Linked DNA regions of Homo sapiens. The protein of the gene in region 3 purifies or fractionates together with the protein of the main gene of each other region. This does not show direct contact. Each region holds a gene or a part of one and is shown on either strand. Other genes may lie near its edges.

What was found.
Region 1: the proteins of ABCE1 (region 3) and SRP9 purify together in Homo sapiens (affinity purification with mass spectrometry; 2 studies listed by BioGRID and IntAct, with this or other methods). This does not show direct contact.
Region 2: the proteins of ABCE1 (region 3) and RP2 purify together in Homo sapiens (affinity purification with mass spectrometry, with the first as the bait; one study listed by BioGRID). This does not show direct contact.
Region 4: the proteins of ABCE1 (region 3) and TIMM23 purify together in Homo sapiens (affinity purification with mass spectrometry, with the first as the bait; one study listed by BioGRID). This does not show direct contact.
Region 5: the proteins of ABCE1 (region 3) and ASNS purify together in Homo sapiens (affinity purification with mass spectrometry, with the first as the bait; one study listed by BioGRID). This does not show direct contact.
Region 6: the proteins of ABCE1 (region 3) and CPVL purify together in Homo sapiens (affinity purification with mass spectrometry, with the first as the bait; one study listed by BioGRID). This does not show direct contact.
Region 7: the proteins of ABCE1 (region 3) and TBCD purify together in Homo sapiens (affinity purification with mass spectrometry, with the first as the bait; one study listed by BioGRID). This does not show direct contact.

What each region holds. Positions count from the first base shown.
Region 1 is NC_000001.11:225,780,826-225,784,325, reverse strand, and holds part of SRP9 (signal recognition particle 9 kDa protein), read right to left. Parts: intron 1,027-3,500; coding exon 958-1,026; intron 1-957. UniProt on the Homo sapiens protein: Component of the signal recognition particle (SRP) complex, a ribonucleoprotein complex that mediates the cotranslational targeting of secretory and membrane proteins to the endoplasmic reticulum (ER).
Region 2 is NC_000023.11:46,850,543-46,854,042, reverse strand, and holds part of RP2 (protein XRP2), read right to left. Parts: intron 568-3,500; coding exon 1-567. UniProt on the Homo sapiens protein: Acts as a GTPase-activating protein (GAP) involved in trafficking between the Golgi and the ciliary membrane.
Region 3 is NC_000004.12:145,101,311-145,104,810, reverse strand, and holds part of ABCE1 (ATP-binding cassette sub-family E member 1), read right to left. Parts: intron 426-3,500; 5' UTR 399-425; coding exon 296-398; intron 1-295. UniProt on the Homo sapiens protein: Nucleoside-triphosphatase (NTPase) involved in ribosome recycling by mediating ribosome disassembly. Able to hydrolyze ATP, GTP, UTP and CTP. Splits ribosomes into free 60S subunits and tRNA- and mRNA-bound 40S subunits.
Region 4 is NC_000010.11:45,996,489-45,999,988, reverse strand, and holds part of TIMM23 (mitochondrial import inner membrane translocase subunit Tim23), read right to left. Parts: intron 1-3,500. UniProt on the Homo sapiens protein: Essential component of the TIM23 complex, a complex that mediates the translocation of transit peptide-containing proteins across the mitochondrial inner membrane.
Region 5 is NC_000007.14:97,851,177-97,855,408, forward strand, and holds the end of ASNS (asparagine synthetase [glutamine-hydrolyzing]), read right to left. Parts: coding exon 4,177-4,232; intron 3,579-4,176; exon of another isoform or gene 3,505-3,578; coding exon 3,404-3,504; intron 2,211-3,403; coding exon 2,129-2,210; intron 2,040-2,128; coding exon 1,884-2,039; intron 1,293-1,883; coding exon 1,083-1,292; 3' UTR 501-1,082; downstream 1-500.
Region 6 is NC_000007.14:29,070,038-29,073,537, forward strand, and holds part of CPVL (probable serine carboxypeptidase CPVL isoform b precursor), read right to left. Parts: intron 2,429-3,500; coding exon of another isoform or gene 2,387-2,428; coding exon 2,264-2,386; intron 1,868-2,263; coding exon 1,736-1,867; intron 1-1,735. UniProt on the Homo sapiens protein: May be involved in the digestion of phagocytosed particles in the lysosome, participation in an inflammatory protease cascade, and trimming of peptides for antigen presentation.
Region 7 is NC_000017.11:82,765,565-82,769,064, reverse strand, and holds part of TBCD (tubulin-specific chaperone D), read right to left. Parts: intron 2,799-3,500; coding exon 2,697-2,798; intron 646-2,696; coding exon 499-645; intron 1-498.

The DNA.
Region 1 (3,500 bases), on a different chromosome or scaffold from region 3:
GCAGTGAGCCGAGATCACACCACTGCACTCCAGCCTGGGCGACAGAGCAAGACTCCGTCTCAAAAAAAAAAAAAAAAAAAAAAAAAAAAAAAAAAAGAACAGGTGATAAACTCCACTGTAGATAAGTGAATTTTGAGGGTATGTGAGATACAGATGCTAGTCAGAAAGTCAGAAGAATATGAACTAAACACACATTTGCAAGTAGACATAGACAGATGCAGTATTAGACTCAGTTAAATGAACTGCTCCAGAAGCTGTTATGAAAAGACAATCAAGGACAGAATCCTAGAGAAGCACATATATATGGGGCACATCAAAAAAAAAACAATCAGCAAAGAAGAATGAAACAACAGAAACACAGAATAGTAAGGCCAAGATAAAACAGAACCACAAGTGCCAAAATAATTATTTCTATGAAAGAGTGGGCTTCTGTATCAAAAGCAGCAAGGAGGTCAAATAACATATGAATAATAAGACCACTGGGTTTGAAAAGAAAGGAGCTGCTGATGTGCTCTCACAAAGAGCAGTTTCGCTGGAGTACCATATGCAGAAAACAAATGGCAGAGGGTTAAGGAATGAATGGGATATGAGGAAGTAACAAGAATGAGCATATCAAAGACAGGAAATACAATAAAGCCTGTAAGTTGTGTTCAAACACTGTCATTTAAAGGAAACTTTTACTCCCTTACATCCAATTTGGTCTCTACATTTCTGTTGCTTAAGGTCTGAAGACAGCACTTATTAAAGACACTTGACATAATGCATTAAGAAAGCAGGTTAAATAATTTCCTGAGGGTCTATAAAAGTAGCTGCTAGAATGAGGTTCTTCATCTTTAAATGAAATGCAAAATAAGCATCCTAATGGGTAATCTCCATAAACTCTAAGTAAATAATTTCAAACAAATAATTAACTCAAACAAATCTGAAAGTATGTAACAAATAAAAATGTATACTTACAACTAAATCATCTGTTACTTTAACACACAAGTTCCCATCAGAATGCCTATATTTGAGAACCACACGTGCCTGAAACAAAAATACATATTTAGAAACAGTGAAGACAAATGACATTTCTTATAAATAATTTAGTCTTCAGGTAGGCTGAAAAGGATCCTTTTAGAATAAATACCCCCAAACATCTAAAGGCATTTTTACTATAAACTAAACCGAAATGAAGTTAAAAAAAAAATCAGCTATTTTAGTTCATTCCTTTGCTACCATTTATTTAAGACTTAAAAAGTTGGATATTTTATTTGCAGCCAGTTTGAAGAGATGTACTGAACATTCTCAAAACACATCCACATTCAGGGAATGTCTGTGAGACTTATAAGGTGGCATTTCTTGCCAATAAGAATATACACCAACACACCTAGCCACAGAGGAATGACAGGAAAGGGAGGAAAACATTTAGCAGAAATGGCTAGTTAAAAAGTCCAAATCCATTCATTAGCAAACAGTGCTGCAGGTCAGTGCAACTCACACTTTCCATTTTTCCACAAATCTTAGCAAGCAGATTCAGACTAAAATATTCAGCAAAATCAGGTCTTTATCACGAAGGTAGAACATAACGCATTATTACATAAAAGCAGAATTCTGCCTTGAAGTCTCCACCAACAACTTTTCCAAAAACCAGAATAACTCCTATACTGAAGTTCCATGTTACACAATACTTTATGTTCAATATTCTACAGATTGCCAAGGCATTTAGATATTAGCATATTCCTATAAGACATCTCCCAAGAACACTTCCACGAACATTATTTTTTTTCAGTGATGGATTCAAGCACAGTGTATCGCAGTTTTTCCCTAACCAGTATCAGTAACTCTTGTTTAGCTAGCTGTTTTAAAAACTGCTAAGTATCGGCCAGGCGCGGTGGCTCACGCCTGTAATCTCAGCACTTTGGGAGGCCAAGGCGGGTGGATCATAAAGTCAGGAGATTGAGACCATCCTGGCTAACACGGTGAAACCCCGTCTCTACTAAAAAATACAAAAAATTAGCCGGGCGTGGTGATGAGTGCCTGCAGTCCCAGCTAATCGGGAGGCTGAGGCAAGAGAATGGTGTGAACCAGGGAGGTGGAGCTTGCAGTGAGCCGAGATCGCACCATTGCACTCCAGCCTGGGGACAGAGCGAGACTCCATTTCAAAAAAAATAAATAAATAAAATAAAATAAAATAAAAACTGCTACTTATCTACAAGCCAGAACAGAAACATAATTTTAAAATGGTTACAATCTAGCACCAGAGGCCTCAAGACAATTCTGGAAACTAAATAAAAAGGGCTAATGGAACTGCAACCTACAGCTTTCCCCATTACGGTCTTTGCATTCCTGAGACTGAAAAAAAAAAGTTACATCACTATATGCGATTTGTCTGAGTGAAGGAGGAAAGGGAACTCATCAAGCATTTAAGCAGGTATAAATAGTAGTAACTAGGTTAATTATCTTTAGAATACCTGATTCTATTTATTTATCTAGTAAATTCAGTTTTACACATTTTAAAAATTCAGTTCTCTAGAAACGAAACACTTAAAAATATACTAAGCATGACAACTATGTGAAGTTTTAACTCTCAGTTAAAGGAACACTCACTGGTTTCATTTAGGAGAAATGAGAGTTAAAAGGCCAATCATGGCTGGGTGCAGTGGCTCATGCCTATAATCCCAGCACTTTGGGAGGGCAGGAGTTCACTCACGAGGTCAGGAGTTCGAGACCAGTCTGGCCAACATGGTGAAACCCCGTCTCTACTAAAAATACAAAAATTAGCTGGGCATGGTGGTGGGTGTCTGTAATCCCAGCTACTCGGGAGGCTGAGGCAGGAGAATCGCTTGAACTCGGGAGGCGGAGGTTGCAGTGAGCTGAGATTGCACCACTGCACTCCAGCCTGGACAACAAAAGCAAAACTCTGTCTCAAAAAAAAAAAAAAAAAAAAAGAAAAAGAAAAGAAAAAAGGCCAATCGTGTTTATAAAAGGGTCCATTTGGTAATTTAGAGGGTGCCAAGTCACCATGTCAGATGCCATAAAGAAAGAAAAATCAAGGTTCTTTACCAAAAATAACCAAAACACAAGGACAGAATGAATTAAGTCCTATAAAGGGATATACAGATAAAATGCTAAAGAGAGAAAACAAGTAACTTAGACTGGGAAAAAGGAAAGTCTAAAAAAGGAGGTGGCTTTGAAATGCTTTTTTTGTTTTAACCTTATAGAAGAAGGCAGAAGAAAGGCTAAAAATCATTCTGAACAAGGATACAATCCGGTAGCTTCATGAGACTAGAGCTGAAGATCATGAAAATGGTGAGACAAAGCCAGAAAGACTGGAGATGGGTCAGACTGTGACTGGGAGTTGGGACTATATCCAGTTATCAAAGAGCCAGTTTTTAAGCAGGAGATGAAGAATTCAACTTTTGTTTTTTAGACAGTTGTGGCAAGAGTGTTAAGGAACTAAAAAGGCTGACAGACCAACAAAGAGGTTATTACATAATCCAGTGGTAATGCCATCTTCA
Region 2 (3,500 bases), on a different chromosome or scaffold from region 3:
TATTGGAACAATGCTTCTATTGGCTTCTGTGGAAACACGAACAGCTTTGAGCTCTTCGGTAGTAGGTATAGGAACATAGTCCTGAACCACAGCATCTTCTGGAAGAAGGCTCCAGTTGAGTTCTCCTGACACAGGTGTAAAGTCATGAATGTTACTCCATGTATTGTTGAAGATACTTAGCCCTGCATCTTTGAACTGGAAAGCTAATTCAGGATAGTACCATTGAAAACATCCAAATTTGATATTTGAGGAAGACTCAATGATGGGTTGAGTGGCACAACACAAAAAGACTTCCAGCTTTCTACAATCTCGCACACGAAATTGTTGGCAGGCTAATGTGCACTTGCAATCTCTGCAATTCCGGAAAAACACGCTGCCTTTCACGGGTCCCAGAAAAATTATGCAGTTAGTACAGTCATCAATGGTAACTGTAGCAGAGTGATCAAAAATATAGATGTTACAGTTCTCACAGTCTTGAATGAGAAACTGTTGTCCTGCTACCGTCCCAGGTAAGCGACCTACTGTTTCATCCTTCAGTCCACTGAACATGTAGTCTTTTGGATCAACCTGCAGGAACAAAACACAGACCTTGAGTATTATTAACATTATTCAACAAGTATCAACTAAAGGACTATTGGCTGCCAGGCACAGTTCTTAGTGCTGAAATATAAATTCTTAATCTCAATGACTTTGAAACACAGTAACAAAATGAACAGGACAAATTGTTTCTCTCAATAATAATATAAAACCTATGATCTTAGTCAACATACACACCTCCCAGAAGACAGATCCCCTCTCTTTGCTATTAAATTGTGTTCTGGGCATGCAAAGCTAAAGGGTAGCCTCTGTGACACTATGGTTTGAGTTTTCCCATGACTTAACCCAAGTGACACCTACATCATCATTGCTACTGTCAATATTGTCAGTAGGCTTTTAGCCTATTTGGAATTTATAAAAGTAAAAAATGTACTAAGCTTTGTAGAGTACCAGGGTCAAAAATATATTTTTAAATGATTGTTTTAATAAAAGCGCTATGAAAAATTCAACTCATATCCTATGTATCTAATGATCTTAACCATGACCTTGCTATTTCAGCTTTCTGATACTTTTTCTTTTTTGATGCTTCATTTTTAAAACTTCTAATTTCTAAAAAAATCTGAGGCTGGGTGCAGTGGCTCTTGCTTTTAATCCCAGCACTTTGGGAGGCCGAGGTGGGAGGATCAGATGAGACCAGGAGTTCGAGACCAGCCTGGCCAACATGGCGAAACCCCGTCTCTATTAAAAATACAAAAATTACCCAGGCGTGGTGGCGCATGTCTGTAATCCCAGCTACTCGGGAGGCTGAGGCACAAGAATAGCTTGAGCCTCGGAGGTGGAGGTTGCAGTGAGCCGAGATCGCACCACTGCACTCCAGCCTGGGGGACACAGTGAGACTCTGTCCCAAAAATAATAATAATAATAAAATAAAATTCTGAAATTGGGAATGTACCCAGACTGAAATATATTTCTCTATCCTTTTTCAAATCAATGTATGGTCTCAGTTTCTAAACCCCAACTGATTTCTGCAATATGCTACAGAAAACAGAAGAACCTGAAGGCACAAGAATCACAATATGTAAATGCAAGCAAATTTGATTCAAGCATTTATTAAGCTACAACGCAATTTTTCAAATTTGGCCATTTCTATTCTTAGATCTTCCAAACTATAGCTCGCTCCTTCCTTCACTCCTTCTTTCGCTCCTTTCTTCCTTCGCTACTTCCTTCCTTCCTTCCTCCCTCCCTCCCTTCCTCTCTTCCTTCCCTTCCTTCCCTCCCTCCTTTCTCTCTCTCTCTTTCGAGACGGAGTCTCGCTCTGTCGCCCAGGCTGGAATGCAATGGCGCAATCTCAGCTCACTGCAAGCTCCACCTCCTGGGTTCAGGCCATTCTCCGCCTCAGCCTCCCAAGTAGCTGGGACCACAGGTGCCTGCCACCACACCCGGCTAATTTTGTTTTTGTATTTTTTTTTCTGAGATGGAGTCTCGCCCTGTTGCCCAGGCTGGAGTGCAGTGGCATGAACTCGGCTCTCTCCTGTCTCAGCCTCCCGAGTTGCTGGGACTACAGGCACCCGCCACCATGCCTGGCTAATTTTTTGTATTTTTTAGTAGAGATGGGGTTTCACTGTGTTACCCAGGATGGTCTTGATCTCCTGACCTCGTGATCTGCCCGCCTCAGCCTCCCAAAATGCTGGGATTACAGGCGTGAGCCACCACGCCTGGCCCCTGTTTTTGTATTTTTAGTACAGATGGGGTTTCACCATGTTAGCCAGGATGGTCTCGATCTCCTGGCTTTGTGATCCACCTGCCTCGGCCTCCCAAAGTGCTGGGATTACAGGCGTGAGCCACCGTGCCCGGCCTTTTTCTTTTTTTGAGATGGAGTTTCACTCTTGTCACCCAGGCTGGAGTGCAATGGCGCAATCTTGGCTCACTGCAACCTCCACCTCCCGGGTTCAAGTGATTCTCCTGCCTCAGCCTCCTGAGTAGCTGGGATTACAGGCGTGTGCAACCATGCCCAGCTAATGTTGTATTTTTAGTAGAGATGGGGTTTCACCATGTTAGCCGGGCTGGTCTTAAACTCCTGACCTTGGATGATCTGCCTGCCTTGGCCTCCCAAAGTGCTGGGATTACAGGTGTGAGCCACCGAGCCCGGCCCACATAATCTTTTAAACAGTATGCCTGGAAAATGTCACATTAATTTTTTTTATTTTACCTGACCTATCAAAATATGGTCACTAAAAGCCTATTTTTGTTTCTTCCATGTGACTTTCTTATCTACTTCAACTGTTTTAACTGTTTGTGACTATATAAACTTCATGCAAAACCATTCATGCACCATAGGCTCCCATATATACAATATGTAAAAATTTGATTTACAAAGCAAAATTTAATCATCTTAATGATTAGCAAATGAGCTTAAATTGACTTAGTAATTGCACAATAGATATTGTACTTAGCCAGTTTTACATGCTGTACTAGGAGGAACACTGGTCTGCAGTATGAGGCAATAAAAGAAGTACTCATTTTCCAGTCCCAATTTTGTCCCCTATAAGCAACCGGATCTTGAAAAAATCCCCTTAACTTTCTGGATGTTCAGTCACTCTACCAATATTTGAATACCCAGTATGAGCCAGACATTGTTTTAGGCACTAAAATGAATAGGACCAGCTCTTTCCATAAAAGTAAACATTCATCTAAACTAAAAACAACTTGACCATGTAATGAGAGATGCTGAGAATATTTTGGAGGGGACAGAGAAGGGACATCTGGGGCGGGGAAGAGAAGTGGGGCGGAAGTTCTGCAAAACATGAGAATGGATAAGCTAGAGCTCATTAGGTAAAAGGGGTAGGAATAAAGGACCCTCCCTTCCCATGCCAGGCAAAAGTAACAGACGGAACAAAGTAAAATTCTTCAGGGAGTAGGAGGAAAACTGAAAGTAGTTTGGTGTTACACATGCTATCAGAATG
Region 3 (3,500 bases):
TATAAGATTTTGTAGATTTCAAGATCAGTAAGCTGAACTCTGCTTTGAGTTCACATCCAATACACTTTTAAATATTGATGTATTATTCTAAAATTTGGTCTTTCTTTAAAAAATATGATCCTTCAGTCACAAAGCAATAAAAGAAATTTAGAACAAACTACTTTTCTTGTCTTCACAGTTTTATGAAACTAATGGTGAACACAAAGTTTATGTTAATGTCCGTAAAGAATTATCAAACCAGTTGATTTCTTTCATGGTTTTCTTTTATACTTAAATGATCCACAGAACAGCTTACCCATTCGAACTACAGGACAACTCTTTTTGCATTCCTGTCGACATTTCTTAGGTTTACATTTGTCATGGTTGACAATAGCAATTCTCGTTAACTTGTCTGCCATAACTGGGCGAAAGAATATCCAGCTCTTCTATGAAAGAAAAATCAACAAATTTAATGCCATTAGTTAAGGGAACTAATTTGCATACATGAAAGACAGGAAAACATAAATGATCATTATATGGAGATGAAATGATTATCTGCAAAAAAAAAATATAAATTTTGACAAATGTAAAAATTGTAAAATAATCTATAATCTAGTAAGGTTGGGAAAATCAAATTTTACATATATACTTTAATCAGAAGATTTATATAAGGAAAGAAAAAAATGTCATTTACAATAGCGACAAAAAGAAAATATCTAGGAATATACTCAACAAGATATATACACAAGAAAACTTTAAAACAACACCAAATGATATAAATGACCTGAACAAATGACATGCTATCTCAGTTTTTATAATAAAGAATAGTTAATATCACAGATTTAAACCCTTCCTGAATTTATATATTTAATTCAATCTCATGAGAAAAAACAAACAAAAGAACCCCAGACATGTGGTGGTGTGCGCCTGCGGTCCCAGCTATTCCGGAGGCTGAGGTGGGAGGATTACCTGAGCCTAGGAGGTGGAGGTTACAGTGAGCTGAGATCACACTACTGCACTCCAGCCTGGATGAGAGTCAGACCCAGTCTCAAAAAAAAAAAAAAACCCCAACCAACCCAGACAAAGCAAATCTAAAGCTCTAATGGAAAAAGAATTATTAATAGCCAGGAAAACTGAAAAAGGGGAAGCAGGATGGGGGAAATCCCACAAGCTCTTCCCCCAAACTAAGCATTACTTCACGTCGTGTACATCTGACTATAATGACACTGACAGAAATGGCAAATAATCATAATAGCAATGAAATTAAAAGGAGACCAAATAACTATATGTATATACTATGCTCACTTTTAAAGCTTTTATAAGTCTTGATATTCCAATTTAATCAACTACACAGCATTAAGATCAAAGTTAACTTAAAAATCTTTCACAATATTGGGCTTAGTGGTTCAGAAATTAATTTCCTTAGAATGGTGATTAAAGTAAAAAATTCCAAAAGGTGCCTTAATACTCAAGTTTATTCCAATATGTAATGAATGAATCTGAAACCAAGATTATCCATTTAGAAAGAGATCATGTTGTCTTTTTCTTACTGTGATAATCAATCTTGATTTTATTTTATTTTTTTTAATAGACTGCTTCCCTTTGTAGACATCTCAAGTCTTTTTCACACCCATCAATATCATTAGGCTTGGATGGGGATAAGAGATCTTGCTCCTCGACGCTGTCCTAGACTATTATCTCTCCCTCCTCCCTAAAAAGTTTTGCATCTCAACTATCTAACTGCTTTAGTTAGTAGTGACCACCAGATCACTCCCTTTCATTCTTTGAAGATTTCAGCCCCTGTTAACTTTCACACACTCTTTTACAACTCCTGACATAGTTCTCGATTTCAATATGCTCACAGATGACCCTCCTGTCCTCTCATTTAACCCCTCTCCTCAAACAGCTTGTCTTCTACCTTACCACAGCCATTCATTTTTTCTGGTTACATCCTAGACCTTATCATTACCAGTAATTGCAATCCTTCTATAACCTCAACTTCAAATACTCCATTCTCCAACCACCATTCTTATCTTTTTAGTTCACCCCCTACTACACAACAATCCAACAACTCTGATTCCTCCATTCTTCAAACCTTTCATTATCTCTTGATTCTATCATATTTCCACTGTCCCTCAGCTCTTGGTGTTTTTATTTTCCTTCTCACCCAGCTAAAATACCCTAAATCACAATCTTGGTTAAATTCGACTCTTCACCTGCACACATAGAGCTGAAAATGGTAGGTGAAAAAAAAACACAAAACCTGCTGACTAGTCTCCCTTTAAATTCATCATCTCAAATGGACCCTTATGCCAACCAGCAATGACACTGTATGTATTTCCCTGGCTAAGACCATTTGTACACTAGAAGACATTCCATAAGAATGTCCCAACAATTCTCCCTTCTGTCTTTAACTTCATCAATTATTCTCTCCACTGGCTCATTCTTATCAGCATTCAGGCATTCTATTATCTGACCCCATCGTCTCCCATTGTTTTATTTTTCCTTCTTCAAGACTACTTCAAAGAGTTGCTTATACTCAATGTCTCAAATTTCTTGCTACATGCTCTCTGGAATCCATTCTAGGCTCTAGAGCCCATCATTTAATCAAAACTTTTCGAGCCATCATTGTTCTTCACATGGCTAAAACAAATGGTTATCAGACCTTAATTCACCTGACCAATCAATTGCATCTGACACAAATAAACACTTTTCCTACTAGATAAAAACCCTTTCTTAACTTGGTTTTAGGATACAACACTAATCTGGTTTTTCTACTGTTTTCCTGGTCACTCATCTTCATCTCCCAGGCTTCTAAATGCAGAGTGCTCTAAGACTTGGTCATTTTTTTCCACATATACTCATTCCCCAAGTTGTTCTATTCTGGTCTCACAGGTTTAAATTCCATTTATATACTGCAAATTTCCAAATTTCTATCTTTAGTCAGCATACCTCTCTTGAACCCTTCCTGCCCACCTAACATCTCTGGAAGGCTTAAGAGGAATCTCCCAACTAAGCTCCTGATATCCTCACCAAAATTTCAGCAGTCTTGCCCATTTTGTTAGATGGCAACTCCAGTCTTCCATTTGCTCAGGCCCAAATCCTTGAAGTCATTTTCTTTTCCACCTAATAACAGCAAATCCCACTGAAGCTATAAAACATCCAGAATCTGATCTCATGAGTTTGGTGTAAGCTATCACTATCATCTCTTACCAGCATCACTCAAATAGCTTCCTAACAGATCTCTTTGCTTTTACCCTCACCTCTTTCTACTCTAACCCTCAACAGTTCATTCTCAACACAGGAACCATAGGAAGCCTTTTAAAGAGTAAGCTAGATCATGTCACTCCTCTATTTAAAATCCTGCAATGGCTTCATTCTCAATCTGAGTAAATGCCAAAGTCCTGAAAATAATCAATGAGGCATTGATCAGCCTCTGTTAACTTTCTGATCTCATCTCCAACTACTCTAGCTCTTGTATGGCTCCAGCTACATTGGCTCTTTGTTGTTCCTAGCACATG
Region 4 (3,500 bases), on a different chromosome or scaffold from region 3:
GCCAGGTGGAACAGAGCCATACTGTTCTTCCTTCAAAAGCAAATGGGAGAAATATCGCTGAATTCTTTTTCTCAGCAAGGAACATCCCTGGGAAAGAGAATACGCGCCTGGGGGTATAGGTCTATAGATGGCCCCCCTGGGTGTGGCCATCTTTTATGGTCTGTAGACTGTAGGGGTGAAATACACCCCAGTCTCCCATAGCGCTCCCAGGCTTATTAGGAAGAGGAAATTCCTGCCTAATAAATTTTGGTCAGACCGGTTGCTCTCAAAACCTTGTCTCCTGATAAGATGTTATCAATGACAATGGTGCCCGAAACTTCATTAGCAATTTTAATTTCGCCCTGGTCCTGTAGTCCTATGATCTCGCCCTGCCTCCATTTGCCTTGTGATATTCTATTACCTTGTGAAGTACTTGATGTCTCTGACCCACACCTATTCGCACACTCCCTCCTCTTTTGAAAATCCCTAATAAAAACTTGCTGGTTTTTGCGGCTTGTGGGGCATCATGGAACCTACCGACATGTGATGTCTCCCCCGGATGCCCAGCTTTAAAATTTCTCTCTTTTGTACCCTGTCCCTTTATTTCTCAAGCTGGCTGACGCTTAAGGAAAATAGAAAAGAATGTACGCGACTATCGGGGCAGGTTCCCCGATACCCATCTGTACAAAAAAATGTAAAGAATTAGCTAGGCATGGTGGCATGCATCTGTAGTCCCAGATATTTGGGAGGATGAGGTGAGAGGATTGCTTGAGCCTAGGAGGTGGAGGTTGCAGTGAGCCAAGATCGTGCCACTGTACTTCAGCCTGGGCAACAAAGCCAGACCTGGTCTCAAAAAATAAAAAAAAATTTTAAAAAGGCCTGGCATGGTGGCTCACGGCCTGTAATCCCAGCACTTTGGAAGGCCAAGGTGGGCAAATCACTTGAGGTCAGGAGTTCAAGACCAGCCTGGCCAACATGGTGAAACCCCATCTCTATTAAATATACACAAATTAGCCAGGTGTGGTGGCAGGCACCTGTAATCCCAGCTATGTGGGAGGCTGAAGCAAAAGAATTGCTTGAACCTGGTGGGTGGAGGTTGCAGTGAGCAAAGATTGCATCACTGCACTCTAGCCTCGGCGATACAGCAAGACTCTGTCTCAAAAAAAAAAAAAAAAAAAGATATTTGGGACACCAGTAACATATTAAATAATTTACTCCCCCAAAAGCTTTCTATTTTCTTGCCAAATGAATCAAAAACTTAGTTCAAATCGATGAAGTTACTTCTTAAAAGCCAGAGAGAAAAAAAATCAACTCCAACAAGACACTAAACATTGGTGTTTGTACTTATCACATAGCATCTTTACTCAAGGGTGGCCTTTTACCACATACCAGCCATGTTCTAATTGTAACTGTTTCCGTTAATTCCAGGGTTTCCCAATTGGTTGATGTGTTTGCAAGTTTAAGGGTCTCTAGGGTTTCTTTACTCAAACAACTCTACACAACTAAGCACAGGAAGTTGATAAGCAAAGGTACTTGCTTTGAACAGAGTAACCAAATAAGGCCAATGGTCAATCTCTATAAAGCAAAGCAAATATGACTTGTGTTTCAGTTTTACCTCCTGTATTTTGGGATCCTTATGTAGTTCTTCCAAAGCGATAGGCAAGCACCACCTCTTCTATACATGAGAAAATGAGGCCCAGAATATTTAAGTGCCTTGTTTGTGGGATATAGGGTTGATTAGTGGCAGAACTAATGCATTCAAATGACAATGACTTTAAAGCACAGATTAACATGTATCTTTTTTAAAAGGGCCAGATAGTAAACATTTTGGGCTTTGAGGGTCAAAGGCTATTGTTATGTAGGTACTTATATAACCATTTAAAACGTAACTAAAAAACGTAAAACACATTCTTAGCCTTCTCACAGCAAATAAACAGGCAGCTGGCCAGCAGGAGTTGGTGGCTCCTGTTCTATAGGAACAGCCTTACCTACATACTAACATGACTACTAAATGCCATTGTTGAGGACTGTCAGCAGCTGTCTTAAAATTTTAAAAAAACTTTATTCTTTTAAGAATTATGGTACAATACATGTAACATAAATTTTACCACCTTAACCATTTTTAAGTGTACATTTCAGAGGCATTAAGTACATTCACACGGCTGTGCTATTACCAACATCTACTTTTCCTTTATTTTTTCTTCTGAGACAGGGTCTTGCTCTGTCGCCCAGGCTGGAGTGCAGTGGTTTGGTAAAGGCTCACTGCAGCCTCGACCTTCTGAGCTCAAGTGATCCTCCCACAACAACCTCCTAAGTAGGTAGGACTACAATCATGCACCACCATACCGGGCTAAATTTTTTGTAGAGATGAGGTCTCCCTATATTACCTAGAGTGGTCTTGAACTCCTGGGCTCAAACAATCCTCCTGCCTCAGCCTCCCAAAGTGTTGAGACTACAGGCGTGAGCCACGGTGCTCTGTGTACCAACATCTATCTTCAGAGGACTCTTTTCATCTTGCAAAACTGAAACTCTCTGCCCATTTAGCAATAACTACACCCCATCCCAGCCGTCTTCCATTCTACTTTTTTTCTGTATGAATCTGACTATTCTAAGTACCTCACATGAATCTGACTATTCTAAGTACCTCACATTAGTAGAATCACACCATTTTTTTTTATAGATGGCCTATTTAGCATAATGTACTCAGAGTTCATCCATGTCTTACCATCTGTCAGAATTTCCTTTTTAAAGGCAGAATAATATTCTATTCTATGTATATACCACATTTTTCTTTTTTGGAGACAGGGTCACCTAGGCTGGAGTGCAGTGGCATGATCACGGCTCACTGCAGCCTTGACCTCCCCAAGCTCAAGTGATCTTCCCACCTCAGCCTCGGGAGTAGCATGTACCACCATGCTTAGCTCATTTTTTGTATTTTTAGTAGCTATGTTGTCCAGGCTAGTCTCCAATTCCTGGGCTCAAGCAATCTGCCCATTTGCCTGCCTTGGCCTCTTAGAATCTATCTTTTTTTTTTTTTTTTTGTTTGACACAGGGTCTCACTCTGTCGTCCAGGCTAAAGTGCAGTGGCACAATGAAGGCACACTGCAGCTTTGACCTCCTGGGCTCAGGTGATTCTCCCATCTCAGCCTTCCCAGTAATTGGGACTACAGGTGCCCACCACCAAGCCCGGCTAATTTTTTGTATAGACAGGGTTTCACCATATTGCCCTTACACTCCTGGACTCAATCTGCCCACATTGGCTTCCCAAAGTGCTGGGATTATAGACATGAGCTACCACACCCAGCCTGTATGGCTGTTGTGAATAATATGCTGTTATGAACATGGGCACACTAAACACCATTCAACTTAAAAAAATAATCAAAGCCTTAAGAACTGAACCAAAATGGCTTAGGTGAAAATAAAATACCAAACTCTGCTCTAAGAAAAGGAAAGAACATTCACTGAATTATACCTTCAGCAATAAGCACTTAATGGAACTTGTTTCATTTAAAATGCACCAC
Region 5 (4,232 bases), on a different chromosome or scaffold from region 3:
TATACAAAAATTAATTCAAGATGGATTAAAGACTTAAATGTTAGACCTAAAACCATAAAAACCCTAGAAGAAAACCTAGGCATTACCATTCAGGACATAGGCATGGGCAAGGACTTCATGTCTAAAACACCAAAAGCAATGGCAACAAAAGCCAAAATTGACAAATGGGATCTAATTAAACTCAAGAGCTTCTGCACAGCAAAAGAAACTACCATCAGAGTGAACAGGCAACCTACAGAATGGGAGAGAATTTTTGCAATCTACTCATCTGACAAAGGTTTAGACTTTCATCAGAAATGCTTAGTTAGCTTAGTTGTTCCTCTAGAACAGCAATCAACTAACTATGGCCCACAGGCCGTATCTGGCCCACCATCTGCTTTCATAAGTAACTTTTAATAGAACATGGCCACGCTCGTTTGTTTACATATTGCCTATGTAACTGCTTTTGCACTATAATGGCAGAGCTGAACAGTTCCAAAAGAGGTCCACAAAGCCTAAAATATTTACTATCTGGCTCTTTATTAAAAACAAATTAAAAATTCAAAAAAAGCCTGACCCCTGCTCTAGGACAAGTCTCCAGAAGTGGCTTTGGCTCAACATAAAAGAGAAAAAAATGAACTACTATCTTGCAAAATAGAGCTGTGATGAACTCCTATAGAAGATTCAAGTCTGAGTCTGCCTAGGCAGCTGTTAGGAATGTAGGCAGAACAAAAATAGTGTAGTCCTTTGATGACGTCCCTAAGATGAGGCAAGGACTGGAAGGAAGCCACACGGGCACAAGATGCAAATGTCATCTAAAGCAGCTCTGCCAGGAGAGGGCTGTGAGTTCTTGCAGACATCTGATCATTTTCCCTTTTCCTAGCTTACCCTCCACTTTACTGTGATACAGCAAAACAGTTCTAGTTACCTCTTATGAAGAGACTGCATGAACATAAATGACTACAGCAATGGTTTAGATTTAGGACTTTTATTTTTTTCACACCCAAGTTAGCCTGAGTTGACTCTCATTGTTCCCCTATCTACCCACAGTCCCCATCCAACACGAAGAAATATTTGCTTTCACATTACAGCATAAAGACCACCTAAGCTTTGACAGCTGACTTGTAGTGGGTCAGCGTGCGGGCAGAAGGGTCAGTGGCATTGATCCACTTGGGCATCCAGTAATGGCTCAGCCAGTCAGCCCGGCCTGGGTAATGGCGTTCAAAGACTTGACGGTAGTAATATCCTTCTTTGGTTTTAGGAGTATTGAAGGGAAATTTCTGGGCTGCATTTGCCATCATTGCATCATCAACCTGTAAGAATAAGCATATAAGAGCAAAATGGCTTAAAATGGCAGGAAATACTTGTGTTTAGTCTCATTTCACGAAACAGAAAATGTTAAGACGTGACTGTAACTTGTATGAGACCCTTTGAATCACCCATCACTTAGAAAATGCTAAAGTATTCATAATATGGATAGCTGCAGTGCCTTTTAAAGAACACTCATATGCATATTTTTAATACTTGGTGGCTCTGTTTTAGTCATTTGTGCCTAACAAGATCTGGCACCCAGCAGGTGCCCAAAAATCTGATAAATGAAAATCAGTGATGATTAGTAGTAAGTCTCCTCTCTCTCTCGATTCTAGATGCTACTTTATAATCCTTCATGCTACTTAATTCTTACGTAATTCTTACAAAAGAGATAATTGTTTACAGAGACTCTGAATCTCTCTGATAGGGACATCCTATCAGAGAGATATCTGATGTATGTATCATTCAAACTAAATACATGTATCATTCAAACTAAATACATGTATCATTCAAACTAAATACAAAATGAACAGCAATGACAGCTCTGCATCCAAACTGTCTTATTCCTGAAAATGTTTTTAAAGACATTATACCTGATGTTCAACGTATTCCTGTAAAATCTTAAACCAGGAATTCTTAACTGAAGTTATTCCATCACTGAAGGCTTCTTTTGGTCGCCAGAGAATCTCTTTGGGTATCAGATTGGAATCCTCAAACGTCTCTCTCAGGAGATGTTTTTCTATCCCATTCTGACGTGACAAAAAAAGGAGCATCAGGTAAAAATTACAAATATAATCTGATGGCAATGGACAGTTTTACCTTGAGTTGATTTACCTACCTTTGGAATTCTCATTTCTGGTGGCAGAGACAAGTAATAGGAAGAAAATCGATGATCTAGAAATGGGACTCTCAGTTCAAGACTTAAAGGAGAAAAGAAGAAAATCTAAATTAAAATGGGTATTTAGTGCCTGCCAGGTTAGGTTCTGATTCAGTTTCCCATCAATTCAACCAGATCTTAAGAAATGTTAAGGTCATACAGTCACATACAAGCCTCCTAATGACTGCCCTACACTAATGAATAGATACAAAAAATAAATCTTCATTTAAAATAATACATATATCATGTCATCTAGGGAGTAAAACTAACTGAGACTATTACTTTTACTTTCCCTTCTAGGAATAGTTAAATGCATATTTCAAAAAGCAGAAAAAGTTACAAAACATGAGTGACCCAATCATTAAGAAAATACCTTGCCTAGACCTAACTCAGTGTTTACTAGGTGAGACCATCTCTTCTAACAATTGTGATGACGATACAGTATTTTTTTGCCACTGATTAAAAATTCACATACAATATGCGATATAAACCAGTGTCCCACTATATTTCATCAAATTCCAAATCACCGGTTTCCTGAAGCCTAGTGACTCTAGTTAGGACAAGCAGAGAGGATAATGACCAGATTCAGTTCATTCCTCAAACCCATATTTAATTATATCCTTATCTAGGTGTGATTCAGCAGAGGCAACTAAGACATTTAATGTCAGTTGTTTATCCTGTACAGTAAAAGTCTTCAGTTCTTCAACATAACTTTAGACAACTAGAAATGATAACCAAAGAAACCTGGTTCTTTATAATGTAATCAAACCCCTTGTATCTTCACTACTCTATTCCCTCAGGGTCACTACAGCACCACATGGGCATGGTGGGCACTCACTACTTGTCACATGATGTTTACGATCTTTACTTCTCTTTAAAACACTTAACGGTAGCTGCTGTAGCAGCCTTGCCTCTTCCATCTTGGTTGTTCAGATGTGAGCAGAATGTTGTTACCCTTTAAAGGTGAAAACTCCACCTCAAACAACCTATGGAAGAAGACTTCTCTCCATATACCACAACACCACTTTGAAATGTGGCCTAATCCTTTTGGGACAAAGTTAAGAAACAGCTTCATTTTCTCTATAAAAGTCACACTTTGTAACATATAGCCAACTATATGTAACATATAGCCAATCAGCTATTGATTTTTATTTTCTCAGGGTATTGAGCTTTTTGTTTTGTTTTGTTTTTGGTGTTTTTTTGTTTTTGTTTTACAATAGCCTCTAAAAATATTACCCATGGGCAGCAGTAGTTCGATCTGCGCGGAGAACATCAAACAAATAGAGTTCCCTCAGAAGCCTCTCACTCTCCTCCTCGGCTTTTTCAGGAGAAGGAGCCTATTTCACAAACAAAAACACCAAGAGTTTTGCTTTTGGCACACAAAGCAGTTTTTCTTTCTCCCTCTCCAATCCTAAAGGTGGATAAGACAAAAAGTTAAACAAATTTAGGGAAGGGAGTAAATAACTGAACAGAGGTAAGCAATGCTTCACAAAACATGCCTTCCTTCCTACCAAACTGCTAATATTAGAATAAAATGAACACAATGGGCAACAGTCATAATTCCACAGGATGCTAAGAAATGGCAGAAAGGGGATTCTCAAGCTTAAGTAGTTTTATTTATTTATTTTTAACTTTTTTTTTTTTTTTTTTAAGAGACGGGGTCTTACTCTGTCAACCAGGCAGGAGTGCAGTGGTGCAATCACAGCTCACTGCAGCCTCAATCTCCTGGGTTCAGGTGATCCTCCCACCTCAGCCTCCTCAGCAGCTGGGGGTATGAGCATGAGCCCTCATACCCAGCTGTAACTAGTTTTAAAGAATAAAAATTATCTGACACATTAAAATTTCTTTCTTCCCCAAGAGATAGAAAGCAAACACTATCAGATTCCCTTTTGTAACCTCACAAGATACTCAAAAATATCACTGTCATACTGAAAGATGATAGAAAATAGTCAAACAATTCATACTTTTCTTAATATAGCATGAATATCCCTCCACTTCAGAGTGGTTACCTTGTGAAAATATATGTAACCCTGCGTAAGTTCATCTGATCCTTCTCCAGAGAAGA
Region 6 (3,500 bases), on a different chromosome or scaffold from region 3:
ACAAGTTGTTTACTGTCCTAAGTATCATTTTATCTATTTTCCTTGAAAAAGCAAAGGTCTTGTTTTAATTCATCACTCAAGATACGGGACCAATGGTCAAAAAGACATTCCAAGCCTTCAAACGTTTTACCTGCTTGGGGTTCCGGTTTCTGACGTATCCGGTTTGGGAGAGATTCTCACCTCGTGGGTCATGTTCTCATTATCTCTGAATACACAACACACCTGAACTTTTCTACAGCTTCACTAATCCTGTAGGTGTTTAGCCTGCTGCATTATGTACCAGTCATCTTTCTGCTTTTTTTCTAAATATGGGCCTCTCAAATGCTCTTGCTCTTGACAATTGCTTTATCCTGTGTGCTTCTTTAAAAACATATCAAATGTTTCAATTGCAAATTGGTCTCATGCCACATAAAATTTGGTATTAATTCTAAATACTGAAGTTTCACTCCTTCGTCCCCTCTGTGACTACCACAGCAGAAAGCCTTGAAAATACTGTCATTGCAAGTGGAAGCATGATCCTACATGTGCCCCAGGAGACCCCTCTTCCTTTGTGTTTACAATTGCATAAGAAATTCTGAATCCACACTTTGCAGCCACATTTAGTGTCCTGACACAGAGAAAGGAGAGCCTGGTGGAGCTCTGTAGGATGGCTCAGGACTCCCTTTGCTCCATCCATTTGCACAGCTAGCTGCTATCAGAATTCACGGCAAGGGCGGTCACTGCCTTGGGGGATTTCTGATAGTGTCCCAACACCCTACTTGTAAAATGAAAAATAACTTTGTATTATCCTCTACCCTTTTCTCCAAGGTTGCATGTCTCCTATTTTGATCTGAACTGGCTGATCTGCAATGCCCTTAAGACTTAATATCAGATTTCTGCTTTAATAACAATAACGACATTAGATATACTGTTACAGAATATGTGTCTAATAACAAACAAATTAAAGCCCTCGAAATTCAGACCTTGCCTCATTTACTACCATGTCAAACATGATGGCTGTATAGTAAATACGGCAAAAAGCCCCTCAGGGAGATTGTTTACACATGGCTCTGTCTGCATTGGCAAAAAAAGCAAAAAAAAACAAAAAAAACCCAACTTCCTGTATCCTAATATTTAGTATATTCTTACATTTTAAATAACTGAGAAAGAAAAGAGTGAAGAACGTAATTATTGATTCTCAAGTTTAATTTTAGGGGAGCAATGAAAGGATATGCACAAATACCAATGGCCCTTTGTAAGAGTTTCAAATTACTACACTTTATAATCTTTGTTCCTGACACGTGTGTCACATGTCATCTGTTACACACTGTGGTCATTTCTCCCAGCTGAAACCCTGTTTGTGGATATAAAACTCTTCTACATGGTTTAGAGCAGATGGTGAAGCATATGCCTCTACTTCCTGGGTTGCCTTTCTTCTGATTTCCATATGATAGAGTCTGCCTTGAGGGCCTCCACAGCATTTAAAGAAATCAAAACGGTTAATGAAAGACACAGTTAGATAAACACTCCAAGATGATCTCAGGCTTAAAATATAGCCAAAGTAAATTCAAAGGAACACAGACAGTCCTTTTCTTCATTATGAGGCCACTCAACTCGCCTCCCGATCTCCAATGGAATAACAGATATACCTTCTTAACAAAAAAATGCCTGAGCACCAAGGTGTTCCTGCTCACCCGCCCTCCCTCCCCAGATGGTTTTAATTGCTCAAGGGCAGCACAGGGCCCCCAGAACTCACTTCAAAGGCCTCAAACCAGTTCTGCTTCCTGATGTGTTCTATGCATTCATGGCACTGCTTCTGGAAGTACTTTTTTTGCTTCTCATCCAACAAGCCAATTTGGTACAGGAATTCTGCATAGCCCCCTATAATCTGAGGACAAAAAAGACACACATCAATGTGACAAAGGGAGAGAAAGAGACCTTAAGGAAGCCCATTTGCTTGGTGAAATAATCCTTTGTAATTGTTAATATTGTGCTGGTTAGCCAAGTAGGATAATTACATGCACACACACATATACACCCCACAACACACACAACAGAACACAACACAATACAAACACACACACATTTGCACTGACAGCCAATGTAAGCTGACACAGTAAATTGATACGTTGAAACATTTGGTAAAAATTAGGAGATTTAAGTCATAAAGTCAACTGGTGTTTCCCTTATCAAAAGTTAGACCTCTAAGAGGAGCCTTCCATCTGATAAAAAGGCATTTAATCCCCCTAAGAGACAAAATAGAAAGTCAGAAGGAGAAACCTACTGATTCGGGATCAGAATATCCATCTCCAATAGCAATTCCGTTCAGGTTGATCTTCACCTCTCTCACAGGGTTGAGGGAATGGATGAGGTGTGCAATGGCTGGCACATATTTCCCTGCATAAGACTGAGAAGGACAGATGTTGAAATGGCCAATCACAAATGGATGCTAGTAAAATTAAATGTACTTAAGCTAATTAAAATAACAATGAAGGAGCAATCTTTCCACATGAGGTATACCATCTGTTTCTTAACCCCACATTATAGATTCCATAATAGCAAAAACCTCTGTCTTCCAATTCTTTTGTCGTCTCAAATAGCACCACATGACATGAACAGGTTCGATGCACAAAAAATCACAAGTGAACATGTAATAAGTGAACATTCTAATTTCCTTCCAAAATAAAATAACTTGGGAGAACACAATTCTGCCATGTGTTAGGCATCTCTTACCAGAAAGCTCTATTCAAAGATTAGAGGGAAAAAAATCTCAAGTTTAAAATTAAGATTTCAAAATCTGATAATGCTGCAAATTTTGAAATCAACATGTACTAAAGGAATAGGAGAAGCAGAAAAGGAAAATAATATTTATTGGCCACTAAAATTTTCACTTGAACTCATCTCTATTTCCAAACTTTTCCAGCACAAGGTCCTTTTTCAAGGTCAGAATATTTTGTAGATATATTTCCCCTAACAAACATGGTAACGGTTCTACTTTAAGACTGTGCTGGAAGAGCTACTATTGACTCAGCAGTATTTTTCAAATAATTTTGCATTTTGCATTCTTTCCATCAAAAGTTGCCTTCTTGATATCTCCACTTGTATGTCTAATATTAAACTGCACATGTTCAAAATAAAGCTCCCAATCCCCAACCCTGAGGCAGCCTCCCTTTCATCTCATGTTAATTCTGTTTCTCCCCTGCTCAGGCCAACAATCTTGGTGCCATTCGTTATATCTCTCTTTGTCTCGTATTCCACAGAAGTCAATCAGCCAAGCTTGTCAGCTCTACCTATTCTAACAAAATCTGTCCAGAGTCCAATGTCTTCTCACAACCCCTTCTCCATCACATCATCTCTGGCCTGGATGACTGCAGTAGACTCCTCATTGGCCTCCTTCTTTTGCCCTTATCCTTTAATGACTTCCCATCTTCCCAAAAGCAAAGGCATAAGGGCTGACATGATCTGCTCCCTTCTCTACCCTCAACCCCTGCCACCCTCTCGCTCATTCCTTTCCAGCCCAT
Region 7 (3,500 bases), on a different chromosome or scaffold from region 3:
TTATGATCCAATAGATAACTAATACAATAAGCTGTGTTTATATGCATAATATTTACATCAGGAAAAGTTCGGAGAAAATAAACAACTTATCTCTTGGCACTAGAATTTCATAAATTTAAATTTAGTATTTTTCTTGCTTATCTTTATTTTCTAGTTCTCCTACAAATGAGCATCTATTATTTATATAACGTTAAGAACTAAATGTAAAATGGGTCCTTATTCTCTCTCACCATGCCACTAAACCCTTCCTTATCTGCCATGATTACCCTCAACAGAGTATTTGCATCATCTACAAAGAAATGAGATTTGCTAACTCAACCTGACCCCTACATGAATTATCACAATTTCAAAATAAGTTATCCTATGGGATTTTACCCCACTGAAAAAAACAGCAGTTGAATACATATCAGAAGCTTACCGAGTAAACCACTAACATCAAGACAGCATGAACATGAAAGTGAGTACTAATTAGCAGCTAATTATCTGCATGATATTTACCTCTGCTATTTGGAGAATACGGTCCATTATGGACATTCGTGCTTGCCCAGGCTGGGTGAGGAGGTTCCCGTCAAGGCGAGAAAAATCAAAAGGGATCAGGCAGGTCACGGAGAGCCAGAGCAAAAGCATGTAGCGGGTTTCCCAAGCCTAAAAAATTAAACCACGGGAAGAATGAGTCTTGCTTGAAAATCACAGGCCACTGGCCACAATCTACTCAAAGTCACTGCCCTCCATGCCCACCCAATGCCTATGAAAGCCATTCAAATGCCATCACCCTCAGGGCCAGAAATGCAAGCCGTTCACCAACTCCTCGCCACATCCCCCCCGGAATCCCCACCACACACACCTACCGCCGTAACTTAGCTCAGCAGACAAGAGAGACATCAAAATGAACAAAGAAAAATCATAATACATCAGTATAGCAGCTTCTCTTCGCTGGCACCTCTCCACATACAAACTGGCCTTTTGAAAAAGTGAAAAACAGATAAAAAGTAAAAACACCTAAGAATAAAGAAAAAAGGCCAGGTGTGGTGGTTCACACCTGTAATCCCAACACTTTGGGAGGCCGAGACGAGCGGATCACCTGAGGTCAGGAGTTCCTTTTTTTTTTTTTGAGATGGAGTCTCGCTCTGTTGCCCAGGCTGGAGTGCAGTGGCGCAACCTCGCTCACTGCAAGCTCCACCTTCCGGGTTCACGCCATTCTCCTGCCTCAGCCTTCTGAGTAGCTGGGACTACAGGCGTTTGCCACCATGCTAGGCTAATTTTTGTATTTTTTGTAGACACAGGGTTGCACCGTGTTAGCCAGGATGGTCTCGATCTCCTGACCTCGTGATCCGCCCACCTTGGCCTCCCAAACTGCTGGGATTACAGGCACGAGCCACCGTGCCTGGCCGAGGTCAAGAGTCCTAAACCAGCCTGACCAACATGGAGAAACCCTGTTTCTACTAAAAATACAAAATTACCCTGGCGTGATGACACATGCCTGTAATCCCAGCTACTCAGGAGGCTGACACAGGAGAATCGCTTGAACCTGGGAGACAGAGGTTGCAGTGAGCCAAGATTGTGCCATTGCTCTCCAACCTGGGCAAGAAGAGTGAAACTCTGTCTTTTTAAAAAAAAAAGAATAAAGAAAACAATTATCAACTTCTAATAAAAAAGGAGTACCCTTATTTTCAGTAATTAGTAAAAAACATCCCAATTTGTCCCTGCAATCATTCCACTGGGGGGCGCTAGAAGTACTAGGGAAAGAAGGGCACGGAGTGCAGGGCAGCAGGGAAATGCCCCACAGCGCTCATCAGTCACATCCACGCCGAGACAAGCCACCGCACTGCACGGTTATAAACCGTGTGCTCCTCCAAATACATACCACGCAGAAGACAGCGAGCATAGCAGGCCCCGCTGCCGTCTGAGGCAAGGCCCCTGACGAGGCCGGCCCTGGGCTGGTATCCAGGGACCTGGACACCAGCAGGGTTCCCACCAAGCCCTGCCTGATGAGGTCCCTCGCTGGCTCAATCTGCACAAACCGTGTGCTTTACGCTGGCACCTGCTTTCCTGCTGGGGGTCTGGAATTTCGTTTCGTGCCAGGCAGAGGTGTCCATGTGGCCAGACCCCAGTGAAAGCTCTGGGCACCAAGTCTCAAACGTGCTTCTCTGATAGACACCTCACAGGTGTGGTCACATCTCACTGCTGGGGGAATGACACAGGCCCTGTGGGACCCAACTGGAGGACCCCGGGAGCTCCCGCCTGGTTCTCCCCAGACCCCACCCATGTGCCTTTTCCCTTTGCTGATTTTGCTGTGTATTATTTTGCCATAACAAGTGACAGCCAAAAGGAGGACTCTATGCTGAGTGCTGTGAGTCCCGCTCAGGAAGTATCAAACCTGGGGGTGGTCTTGGGAACCCAACACAGTTATACTTACACAGTTAAAAAAACATAGAAACAATGACGGATTTATTGTTAAACTACACCTAGGCATAATTTTTTTTATAAAGGGGCTATTTTAAACGAAAATAATTTAAAGCAACTTGTACAAGAAGTAAAGGAAAAGTGAAAAGAAAAGAAAGAAAAGAGGAGTGACACAAAACAAAGGGAGATAAAATGAAAGAAACAGGAAGGGGAAGGTGCAGCAGGGTGGGGCAAGCAGGGAGGAAGGACAGGCACGGAGGGCTGGAGACGAGGGGGGAGGCAGAGACACTCACTTCATGGTCCTTGGGATTCTGAATTGTGACCAAATCTAAAACAGGCTCTACATCGGCAACTTCATGAGGAAATAAACGAAGAAATGTTTTATAGCCTCGAACCTATCAAATAAAGAGATGCTGAATTATAACATTTAAAAATACAGAGAGCAGCAAAATTGCCTTTCTACCCTTTCATCAAAAATCACCAGCTACGCGACCCACTGATCAAAGAGAATTCTGTGACATTACAGTGACACAATTTAGTAAGACCGTAGTCACCCCAAGAAAGCTACCCATGGCCAAGAGCGATGGCTCACACCCGTAATCCCAGCACTTTGGGAGGCCGAGGCAAAAGAATAGCTTGAGACCAAGAGTTGGAGACTAGCCTGGGCAACATAAAAAATTAAAAATTAGACAGGATGGTGGCACATGCCTGTAGTCTGAGAGGATGAGGCAGGAGGGAGAATCATTTGAGACCAAGAGTTCGAGGCTGCAGTGAGCTGACTGCATCACTGCACTCTAGCCTGAGTGACAGAGCAAGACCCCATCTCTCAAAAAAAAAGATTTCCTTCCTAAATTGGTAGTGTTATTCATTACCATATTTACGGAATCAGTCATTAAATATGTTCATTTATATGACTGTCCTCTGACATTTATGAGGAATAAGTGCCTACAAACCGCAAGGGCCCAAATTCATTAACACTTCCCTGAAGCTCAGTGATACCACGCCTTCCGGAGAAATCCTAACCTCAAACAGAGGAGCTACAGAGGCCTGCGTGTCCTTGGCAGCTCACCCGCAGTGTCCTCTCGCTGGCCAAGGAC